3 linked regions of the Homo sapiens genome follow. The protein of the gene in region 1 purifies or fractionates together with the protein of each later gene. This does not show direct contact. Each region holds a gene or a part of one and is shown on either strand. Other genes may lie near its edges.

What was found.
Region 2: the proteins of TAS2R31 (region 1) and TPP2 purify together in Homo sapiens (affinity purification with mass spectrometry; one large-scale study listed by BioGRID and IntAct). This does not show direct contact.
Region 3: the proteins of TAS2R31 (region 1) and PACSIN2 purify together in Homo sapiens (affinity purification with mass spectrometry; one large-scale study listed by BioGRID and IntAct). This does not show direct contact.

What each region holds. Positions count from the first base shown.
Region 1 is NC_000012.12:11,029,819-11,032,908, forward strand, and holds TAS2R31 (taste receptor type 2 member 31), read right to left. Parts: upstream 1,590-3,090; 5' UTR 1,518-1,589; coding exon 588-1,517; 3' UTR 569-587; downstream 1-568. UniProt on the Homo sapiens protein: Receptor that may play a role in the perception of bitterness and is gustducin-linked. May play a role in sensing the chemical composition of the gastrointestinal content.
Region 2 is NC_000013.11:102,634,896-102,638,552, reverse strand, and holds part of TPP2 (tripeptidyl-peptidase 2), read right to left. Parts: intron 2,967-3,657; coding exon 2,851-2,966; intron 2,330-2,850; coding exon 2,161-2,329; intron 1,472-2,160; coding exon 1,314-1,471; intron 315-1,313; coding exon 238-314; intron 1-237. UniProt on the Homo sapiens protein: Cytosolic tripeptidyl-peptidase that releases N-terminal tripeptides from polypeptides and is a component of the proteolytic cascade acting downstream of the 26S proteasome in the ubiquitin-proteasome pathway.
Region 3 is NC_000022.11:43,008,625-43,012,281, forward strand, and holds part of PACSIN2 (protein kinase C and casein kinase substrate in neurons protein 2), read right to left. Parts: intron 1-3,657.

The sequences.
Region 1 (3,090 bases):
TTTCTAACAATAATTCTCATTGCTTTTTACTAAACATAAAATAGAAATTCATAATGGAATAAAACACCAAAGATACATCCTCATTATTGATTTAGAATTGAATGACTTTACCATCCAATAAATTCGAGGTTCAAGCAATGAATTCTAAGCACAATGTGGTGTATTCCTGTGGTTCAAATAACAATAGAAAAGAGCAATATTTATCCTGGGATAAGCTGTTACTTCTTAATAATTATAAATAGACATCATAAATTCTACAAATGAAATATAAAATACATGAATGAAATATACATGGCTTCAAAATTCTAAGAAATTTTTGTCATATTTTGTATAATTTGGCAGTTTGTATGAAAAAAACAGAAAAGAGCATGTTATTGTCAATGTTCTTAAGTTTTCATACACACATAAACACACACATATATATATTTTTTTTTCTAGACTAATATTAGGTCAAAGGCTTTTCTAGGTATACGTTGGGAAATTATTCATACACATACAGTATAGAAAAACCAGTAAGAAATATAAAATGTTTCATACACCACCAGTTTGTTTTCTGCTAGAAGACACACAATGCCCCTCTCATGAATCTATGGAGATGAAGGCTTCTCTCCTTTCACCCAGTACCTCACTTGCCGCAAAACTGAAAGAAAAGTCTGCTTTAGCTTCTTGTTTCCCCAAATCAGGATGAATGGGTGGATTGAAGGATAGCTGAATCTAATAGCTTTGCAGAACATGAAGACAGGTTTGTTTTCCAGACTCCCAAAACTCCAAACTGATATCATTATGGACAGAAAGTAAACGGCACATAACAAGAGGAAAAAGATCACAGTTTGCAAAGCTTTTATGTGGACCTTGGTGCTGGGATCTTGAGATCCTTTACCATGGAGCTGCATCTTCTTGAGATGTTTACACAGAGAACAGATTAACAGCAAAAAACATAGCAGGGTCAGAGTGAAGGGCACTAAGTTTCCTAGCGTGGTTACAGTCGCATCTGAAAGGTACACTGCACTCCTCAATTTGATCTTCCAAGTCAAGTTTCCTTCATATTCTTTTGTCCGTACAATCTCTTTCATGTTTATCACAAAAAGTTGACAAGCCAAAAATAGTAAAGGCCCCAACAGCATCACCAGAATGACACTCTTAACTCTCCTCTTTAAGTGAAGAAAAATAAGGTTGGAGAAATTGGCAATCTTGAGCAAATAAAATATGCTGAGGCTAGTAGCAAGCCAGTTGCTGAAATGGCCGGTTACTGCCCAGACATTATAAGCAGTAGTTCTTACTTCTACACTATAAAAAGCTGGATTAAACACAGTTGAATACCAATTTAATAATAATACCCAGAGCAAACCAACTCTGGAGACCGCCAGAGCAGTGAGAATCTGGTCAGCAAAAGAGATCTTTTGTCTCTTGACCCGCTCAATGGAATTTACCAATGCTATGAAGCCATTAGCAAAATTTCCAATAACAAATAGAACCACTACCACACTGGAAAAAATGATGGGTATAAAAGTTGTCATGTCTGAACAGACAAAAAAAAATTGTTTTAATGCTGGTGTTGTGTCCGGAGTTGGTTCCTGCAGGTGGGTTCGTGGTCTCCCTGACTTCAAAAATGGAGCCACCGACCTTCACGGTGAGTGTTGCTGCTCTTAAAGATGGCATGGACCCAAAGAGTGAGCAACAGCAAGGTTTATTGAGAAGAGAGAAAGGACAAAGCTTCCACCGGGAGGAAGGCGACCCAGGCAGGTTGCTGCTGCTGGCTGAAGCCATGAGCTTTTATTCCCTTATTTGTCCCCTCCCATTTTCCTTTTTTTGTCCTATCAGAGTGCCCTTTTTTCAATCCTCCCTGCCATTGGCTACTTTTAGGATCCTGTTGCTTGGTGTATTTTAGAGCGATTGGTGCATTTTACAATCCTCTTGCTAGCTACAGAGCGCTGATTGCTGTGGTTTTACAGTGCACTGTTTGGTGCATTTTACAATCCCCTTGCTAGCTACAGAAACGTTCTCCAAGTCCCCACTCGATTCAGAAAGTATAGCTCGCTTCATCTCTCAATGTAATATAACTGGGTGTGATTGCTTGAATATCCTGACCTTAAATTCTATATGCACCTGATTTGTGAATGTGCTGTGACATTCTTTTTACTTTTAATTGTTGTGACCAGTGTCAAGCCAGAAATAACCATGGCATGTTAACTGATGAGTTCAATGATCTCTTTATGGAAAACATTCTTATTTTCAAACAACTCAAATTAACTCATTCATTCACTGTCTGTTCTTGTTATAGGCTGGAATTATTCACACTGAAATTGACGTGAAACCTGAATCCTCATTTGCTAGTACGCAAATAGGGACATATTCACTTTCAGTGTTTGCAATTTTTCCTTGTGTAACCTCTCCATCATTTATCTTTAGTGACTTCAGTTGTTAGGGAAGTTTTGTAACTCAATATATATATCATATAGTAAATATCTAAATTCTCAAAGGGAGCTTGGTCATAACTAAGATCATCACCAATGCGGACTTTTTTAAATCACAGATTTAAATACACAGAATCCTAACTGCTTTTATCAAAGGCATCTCAGATTTTCTTGAGAACCACAGGCAGGCCACTACTCCATAAGATCTGGTTGCTGCTAACACTTTCGTATAACTTCATTATTCACAAACTCATAAATATGCACACAAATATACACATGTGCACACCACTTATGAATGGAACAAATTATTTTCTTGTAATTTCCAAAATAAAAAATGAGTTTCCAAGAGGCTGTGCAGATGAAATTAGTCCTATTTTCCCACTCAGGGTTTTCAGCCCATGAATAATATTTATTTATCAAAAACATTATCTCTAATTCTTAGGACTTGGTAAAGTTTCTCTCAAGTCTAATGTTTAAATATTATTATAAAAAATATTTAGCAATTTTATAAGAATTCCTCAGTACCAGACCCTTTGATATATAATCCTGCAGTATCCTATCACAGGAAGACTGACTACCTTGCCCCTGAACTTGGAGTTCAATCATTTCACTTACTTTGATAAACAGAAAATTACTACAGTTTGCATAGAGATTTGAGATGGCTTCCATACTGGGG
Region 2 (3,657 bases), on another chromosome or scaffold:
GAAATAGTTTTGATGCAGAGGTAGGGCAGATGCCAGGTGCCATCAGTTACTCTCAGAGCACACAAGAGTCAGTATGGCTGACTACATGACACCTAAAAATGCTAGCTGGGAGCAGAACTAAGACAAAATCCCCATTACCTGGTTCTGTATTAGTGATCATTAAAAGTCCACAAGACTCCATGAATAGTCATTAAAATCTTAGATGTACCAGTAAGCTGTGAGTAACCTGTTACTTACTTTGCTGCTATAACTGCAGTGATCGGAACTCTGAAGAGCGGACCTGCGTTAGGGGATGCTATATCATAGCCACATACCTTGAAAAAAGAATCGGTAAGTGTCAATATCCATAAACAAATGTTTAAAAGAGCGGGGGAAGGTCTAAACTACTGACAGAATAAATCAATCTACTTTTAATCAAGGTCTTAACCAGAGGTTGACACCAATTTCCTGACACTAGGTCACATAATTAATAGCAAACAGCCCAAACAAATGTATAGCAACATTTGACCAGTTGAAATGGGAAAATGAGACGTCAGGTACAAAATAAGTGCATTTTAATTACTCCCAACTGAAAAATTAGCTCAAACTAGTACTACAGACAACTTTAGATGTGGAGATACTGTTGTGATACTATTCTATGCCTGGTTTACAACTATTTGTTTAACAGATGCTTTCTTCATCTGAGTACTAAAAGGTATAACTGGCTGGGTGTGGTGGTTCACACCTGTAATCCCAAAGCCCTGGGAGGCCAAGGCAGGAGGATCACTTGAGGCCAAGAGTTCAAGACAAGACTGGGCAACATAGAGAGATCCTGTCTCTACAAAAATAAAAAAATTTAGCCAGGCTTGGTGGTGCACGCCACTAGTCCTAGCTACTCAGGAGGCTAAGGTGTGAATATCACTTGAGCCCAAGAGTTCAAGGCTGCAGCGAACCACGATCACACCACTGTACTCCAGCCTGGGCAACAGAGCAAGACTCTGTCTCTTAAAACAACAACAACAACAACAACAAGCAACTGCAGCTTTGTTTAGCTGACAAAAGAAAACACCAGTTAGAGGGAGATCTAATTGAAAGGTTCTGCTGTACCTCTTCTTTCCTTTTACTTATTCATACAAGGACAAAATATGATTCTTTAGAAACTCACTGCTTAAATGAATATAGACACACCAGAAGAACTGAATAACCTGGCAGATGGATAGGTCTAGTTATTTCTTAGCAAGAAAGCAATATATTGCAAATATACTTTGGATTTTTTTTTAACCTTTTAAACATTTTAAAGAGTGAAGAAAGTAAAAATGAAGATACATCAATACCTCTGTATAATGCAATCCTTCTCTTAAGCCCCTGGGATCCACACGTATGTTTATGTGTCTACATTGATTCATGAGTTCCAAATGGCTGGGACACTGAACCCAAGATGAATTTGAAGTCAGAGCTAAATGAAGCTGAAGGGATATTTTTTCAGAGTTTTCTGGCACGAAAAAGACCAAAAATTAAAGATGAGTATTTTTTTCCTTTTTTCCATTTAAAAATGTTACATCTTTCCAAAAAAATTTAGCGACTTGGTTTGGTTGGCTGTAAAATGCATCCAAAACACAGCTTAAATAAAACAGTCAAATAATCTTCCTTACAATTTAGATTACTCATGATTCATTTATACTTTCACCAAGCACTGGTATGACCTTAAAATAAAGAGTTTAAGTGAATGTTTTCATTACTGCACACAGGTCATAGTATTCAACTGAAATGAAGACAGCCAGATAATAGCGATGATTATTTTTGTTCACACCTAATCGAGCTGCAGTTCTCCTAGACTGCTTCTACTTTTCATTCTTCAACAGAAAGCTCTGTCTTATACCTAAGTAGGTAAAGTGGAAAAGAAATTTGATATTTTATTATCCACAATTTAATAAAGCTGTGGGTCACTGAGGCTCATTCTACTGTTTTCCCTGGTAGTTTAAGATGCTAACTAAATTGCCATTGTACAAGGACCCCAAATTGCTCTAATATTTTCTCTTATGACTAAGATTTAAAATAATCATACTGTCAATTCATGTATTCTCTTCACAACACTGGCCCAAACAGCAATTCTTTATTATGATACCACTCATTCAAACAGCAAATGTGAATACGTCAGCTTACTGCCAGCCTATTACTGACCTGTGTTCTCCGGAAATACAGGTTCAATGCCAACGCCATGATCTGAAGGTGCAGCCACCTGAACAGGATCTCGGAGGTAGATGCCACGGTTATTTCCAACAGTAACAGTAAAACCTAATTTATTAGCAAATGATGTATTCTGAACGAGGTAGTCATAGGCTTTATCAACCTAGTGAAAATAATATACATGGTAAGATATAAATGGTTGGGTCAAAAAATATTTTGTTGCAAATTACCAATCAATTTGATTTCAGTTGTAAAACAAAAAGTTAGTGTCTATATTCACCTCTCAAAACTACCTAGTACCCCAACTAAGAGGACAATTCTACATTTTTAGAAACAACACCAGTCACATCTTCCACTCCACTCTATTCACACTGTTATTCTCAAGTGACCAAATTTAGGAACTAATCCCTATGCCGTTATGATTGGCCAGTTTTTGACCTCGATTTCTTTGAATTTCTAACCTCTACATGGCCTCCATCTATTACATTTCTTGATCTTAGTGCAACAGATTTGTCTTAACTACAAAATTTGTTTGTGTATCCTTTTTGCTTGTAGTTCTATGGCCATATAATCCATAATTCAGATATACTGAATCACTGTTATAAAACAAAATATTACCCAATAATATCTAAGATATTATCTCAATGATGCTTTACAACCCATTTTTCATATAGGCAACAATACCTGAATAATACCATGTCCTTGAGCAAATACTTCTATATTGTCAGCCTTCACTGCAGTGTTTTCTAGAGCTCTTCTGACTGAATGAACTGTGTAGTCAATGTTATTAGCTTTCAGACCTAAAATTAAGAAACAAAAACAAGTAGTGTAGCACTCACTATCTGAAACCTTAGCCGCCCACCAGTATGATCGATCACCTGTAGACCCTCTGGTGTTAATGTCTTGTGTTCTAACACTCATTTTAAAATCTTTTTTGAAGACCTGAACTAAACAGTCTGACTCAAACTGCTTGCATTACATGAAGGCTTCATTCCACAAAAATCACTGTGTTCTCATTATGTGGTGGGCAGAGAGACTGGTGTGGGCTTTGTGGCGTAATATAAACGTACAAAGCAGATATCTAAAAGCATGTGAATGACATTTTCTTTCAAACACTGCTGGGTTAAACAAGATGGCTGTTGGCTGTGGTGTTCAACCCAACTGTATGTTATAAACCCCAGGGGAACTCAAGCAAAAAAGATGCTGAGGTCTCATGACAGACCAATTAAATCAGAATCTCTGAGGACTGTCCCAGAGATTGTTATTTATTAAACAACTCTCAGATGATTCTAGGGTACAGCCAGGTTGGGAATTACTGTTTTATGGGAAGAATATGGAGGCCACCAATTCATAAGATGAGTGCTGTATCATTCTTGTCCTCTCCAGAGCTCATTAAACACATAAACATTGATGATATTGTCAGACATCAGAGGAACTGACAGATAAGCCGCCTCTTAGAGAATGTACAGGAGTCTGCAAGGCCACAACATG
Region 3 (3,657 bases), on another chromosome or scaffold:
TTAGTCCATAAAATGTTAGGAATCTAGCCAGAAGGCCACAAGCAGCCACTGTTGGACAGTCCTGGCCACTGGCACAATCCACACCCAACTTTCAAACCCACCCAGCGGCTCTGGGCCCAGGGAGGGGCCTCCTAGACTGCAGAAAGCATCTCATCTGTGAGGACATACTTGGATAGGACAAGTGAGACATTTGGAATTTTTACTTAACATTTATTTCACAACTTTCTCAAGTGCTAAGCAACTGAGAAGTAGTCATTTTAATGTACTCTTTCATCAATAAGCATTAAATAAGTCTGCTCAAAACACTCAAGCCCTACAAACTGTCCCTATGAAAAATGTGGCAAGAAAAAATAACAAAAACAAATAAGTAGCCTTTTCACATACAGAAAAGGTGTTTAGTGATCCAAATTCAGAGAGAAAAACAGTCCTTTCCGGCAGATGAACAAATAGTTTCCTCTACGAGTGACACATTCTGGGATATTTGAACTGCCAAACATAACTCATAATGACAACCACCAAGGAAGCAAAACCTAATGGAAAAGCCCCAGGATGGCAACCAGGAGCCCCAGTTCTGGTCCCAGGACGGCCTCTGGCTGTTTGCTCCATCAACGTGCTGACCAAGCCTGGCCCACTTTCTTCATCACAGGAAGGAATATCTATTGCCACCTGTACCACTCAGAAATGTTTTGAGGACAAAAGAATGAGAGGTGAAAGTGCTTTGGAATGTGCATCTTCTATAAATACAAGTCATCATTATTATTAGCTCAAAGATGACCAGGAAAATAGGATTACAGAATATCACAGGTGAGAGGGAGCTTAGAGATGGAATAATCCAGTTCTTAATCTGGGTCCACGCCTATGAAGCTGTCCCCCTTCGTGGGAAGGGGTCACAGTTGCTATCAGATTTGCAAAAGGTGAAGGTCCTCTAAGTCCTTCATTTTACAAATATGAAAACTGAGACCTGGAGTTCTGTGCTGATTGTCCCAGACCTCAGGGTTGGTCAGGGAAAGGCTGGACAAGAGCCCAAGGCTCCTAGTCTCCATCCACGCTCCTCCCCCTCTGTCATCTCATATTCTTGGGAGGAAAAATAATCATATAAATTTTATCTGGCCACAGAATATGTACTATAAACCACCACACATGCACTTTCCAAAGGTACAGCAAAATCTCTAGCCTTATTTATCATTTTTAAGGCTTCTTGCGAGGTCTTTGATAGTTGAGACATCATTTTATTTTTTCTATTTTTTTTTTTTTTTTTTTTTGAGACAGAGTCTTGCTCTGTCACCCAAGGCTGGAGTGCAGTGGCACAATCTCGGCTCACTGCAGCCTCTGCCTCCCGGGTTCTAGTGATTCTCCTGCCTCAGCCTCCCGAGTAGCTGAGATTATAGGCGCACGCCACCATACCCGACTAATTTTTGTATTTTCAGCAGAGATGGGGTTTCACCATGTTGGCCAGGCTGGTCTCGAACTCCTGACCTGAAGTGATCTGCTCCTTTACTTCCCATAGTGCTGGGATTACAGGTGTGAGCCACAGCGCCCAGCCCCATTTTATTATTTCTATATTCTCATCTCCGTCTAGTTCAGTGCCTAAAATCAAGAAACACGCAAATGATTTTTTTAGGATTGAAAATAGGCCAGGTGTGGTAGCTCACACCTGTAATCCTAGCACTTTGGGAACCCGAGATGGGAGGATCACTTGAGGCCAGGGGTTTGAGACCAGCCTGGCAAACATGGCGGAATCCCATCTCTGTTTAAAAATACATATATATATATATTTTTTTTTAATTGAAAATAAAAAAGACCGGCCAGGCACGGTGGCTCACGCCTGTAATCCCAGCACTTTGGGAGGCAGAGGCGGGCAGATCACGAAGGTCAGGAGATCAAGACCATCCTGGCTAACATAGTGAAACCCCGTCTCTACTAAAAATACAAAACATTAGCCAAGTGTGGCGGCGGGCGCCTGTAGTCCCAGCTACTTGGGAGGCTGAGGCAGGAGAATGGCATGAACTCGGGAGGCGCAGCCTGCAGTGAGCCAAGATCACACCACAGGGCACTTCCAGCCTGGGCAACAAAGCGAGACTCCGTCTCAACAACAACAACAACAAAAAAAGACAAGAAAGGAAAAGAAAAAAGACCTTATTCTAGGAAACAAGAAAGACTCTATGGTGCTTTAAGTTTTATTAAGCAAACAGATGAACATGCATTTATGGGAATAAGCACAATTCAATAGGTAACTTAAGGAAAGGTGGTTTTTATTTGTTTTATGTGTGCTTTTCATCAAAATGTCAAAACTTGTGCTCTTTGGTGGCCACTGTCCCTCAAGTAGTTACCTTTGGAACTGCAGAGATACCAAAAAATGATGTATTGTGCAGAATAATTTGAGAATTCTTTGAAGCCTGTCTCCAGTCCACAGACAGAGCATACTCATCTGAACACTAAAATTCTGCAGAAATTCCTACAAAACTATCCCAAGAACCACCACTGGGACGCATCTGGAGTCTGTCTGGGGCAGGGACGAATGATACTTTCTGGTATGTGAGGGATCAGTGCCCTGGCCATAAGGAAAGACTCTACCTGTGGAATGCAAACTGCCTTCGTAACTAAGGCATTGCTGCACTGCCCTCAGGTATGCAGCTACCATTCCAAACAACCTAACTGGAAAAAAACTAAGCCAGCACTATTGCTCACATGAATGTGGTCATTAATCGCATAATCTACAGGGCGGCCTCCACAAAGCTGCCATTACAATCTGATGGCAGATAAAGCAGGCCCGAGTCAGCTGGGAGGTTCACATGAAGGTGGCCAGAGAGCATCTGGTAAATGCCACTGCGAACTCTAAACACAAGGTGCCATCACTATTATTAAAGAAACTTTTCGATCTGTTTGATATTCCACAACATCCGGAATCATCCACTGATAACCCCTTCAGAATCAGTAAGCCTGAGCATGACGCCCTTAACACAGCACAGACTTTCAAGGTATAGAGAAGAAACAAAAGGCAAGGACATCTGCGAGGCCGAGGCGGGCAGATCACTGGAGGTCAGGAGTTCCAGATCAGCCTGGCCAACACTGTGAAACCCCATCTCTATTAAAAATACAAAAACTAACCAGGCAAGGTGGCAGGCGCCTGTAATCCCAGCACTTTGGGAAGCTGAGGTGGGCAGATCACCTGAGGTCAGGAGTTCCAGATCAGCCTGGCCAACATGGTAAAACCCCATCTCTATTAAAAATACAAAAACTAGCCAGGCAAGGTGGCAGGTGCCTGTAATCCCAGCACTTTGGGAGGCCAAGGCAGGTGGATCACAAGGTCAGGAAATCGAGACCATACTGGCCAACACGGTGAAATCCCGTCTCTACTATAAATACAAAAATTAGCCAGGCGTGGTGGTGGATGCCTGTAGTCCCAGTTACTCAGGAGGCTGAGGCAGGGGAATCACTTGAACCTGGGAGGCAGAGGTTACAGTGAGCTGAGATCGCACCACTGCCTCCAGCCCGGGCGACAGAGCGAGACTCTGTCTCAAAATAAATAAATACATACATACATACATACATACATACATACATACATACATACATACAAACATACAAAAACTAGCCAGGCAAGGTGGCAGGCGCCTGTAATCCCAACTACTGAGGAGGCTGAGGCAGAGGAATCAT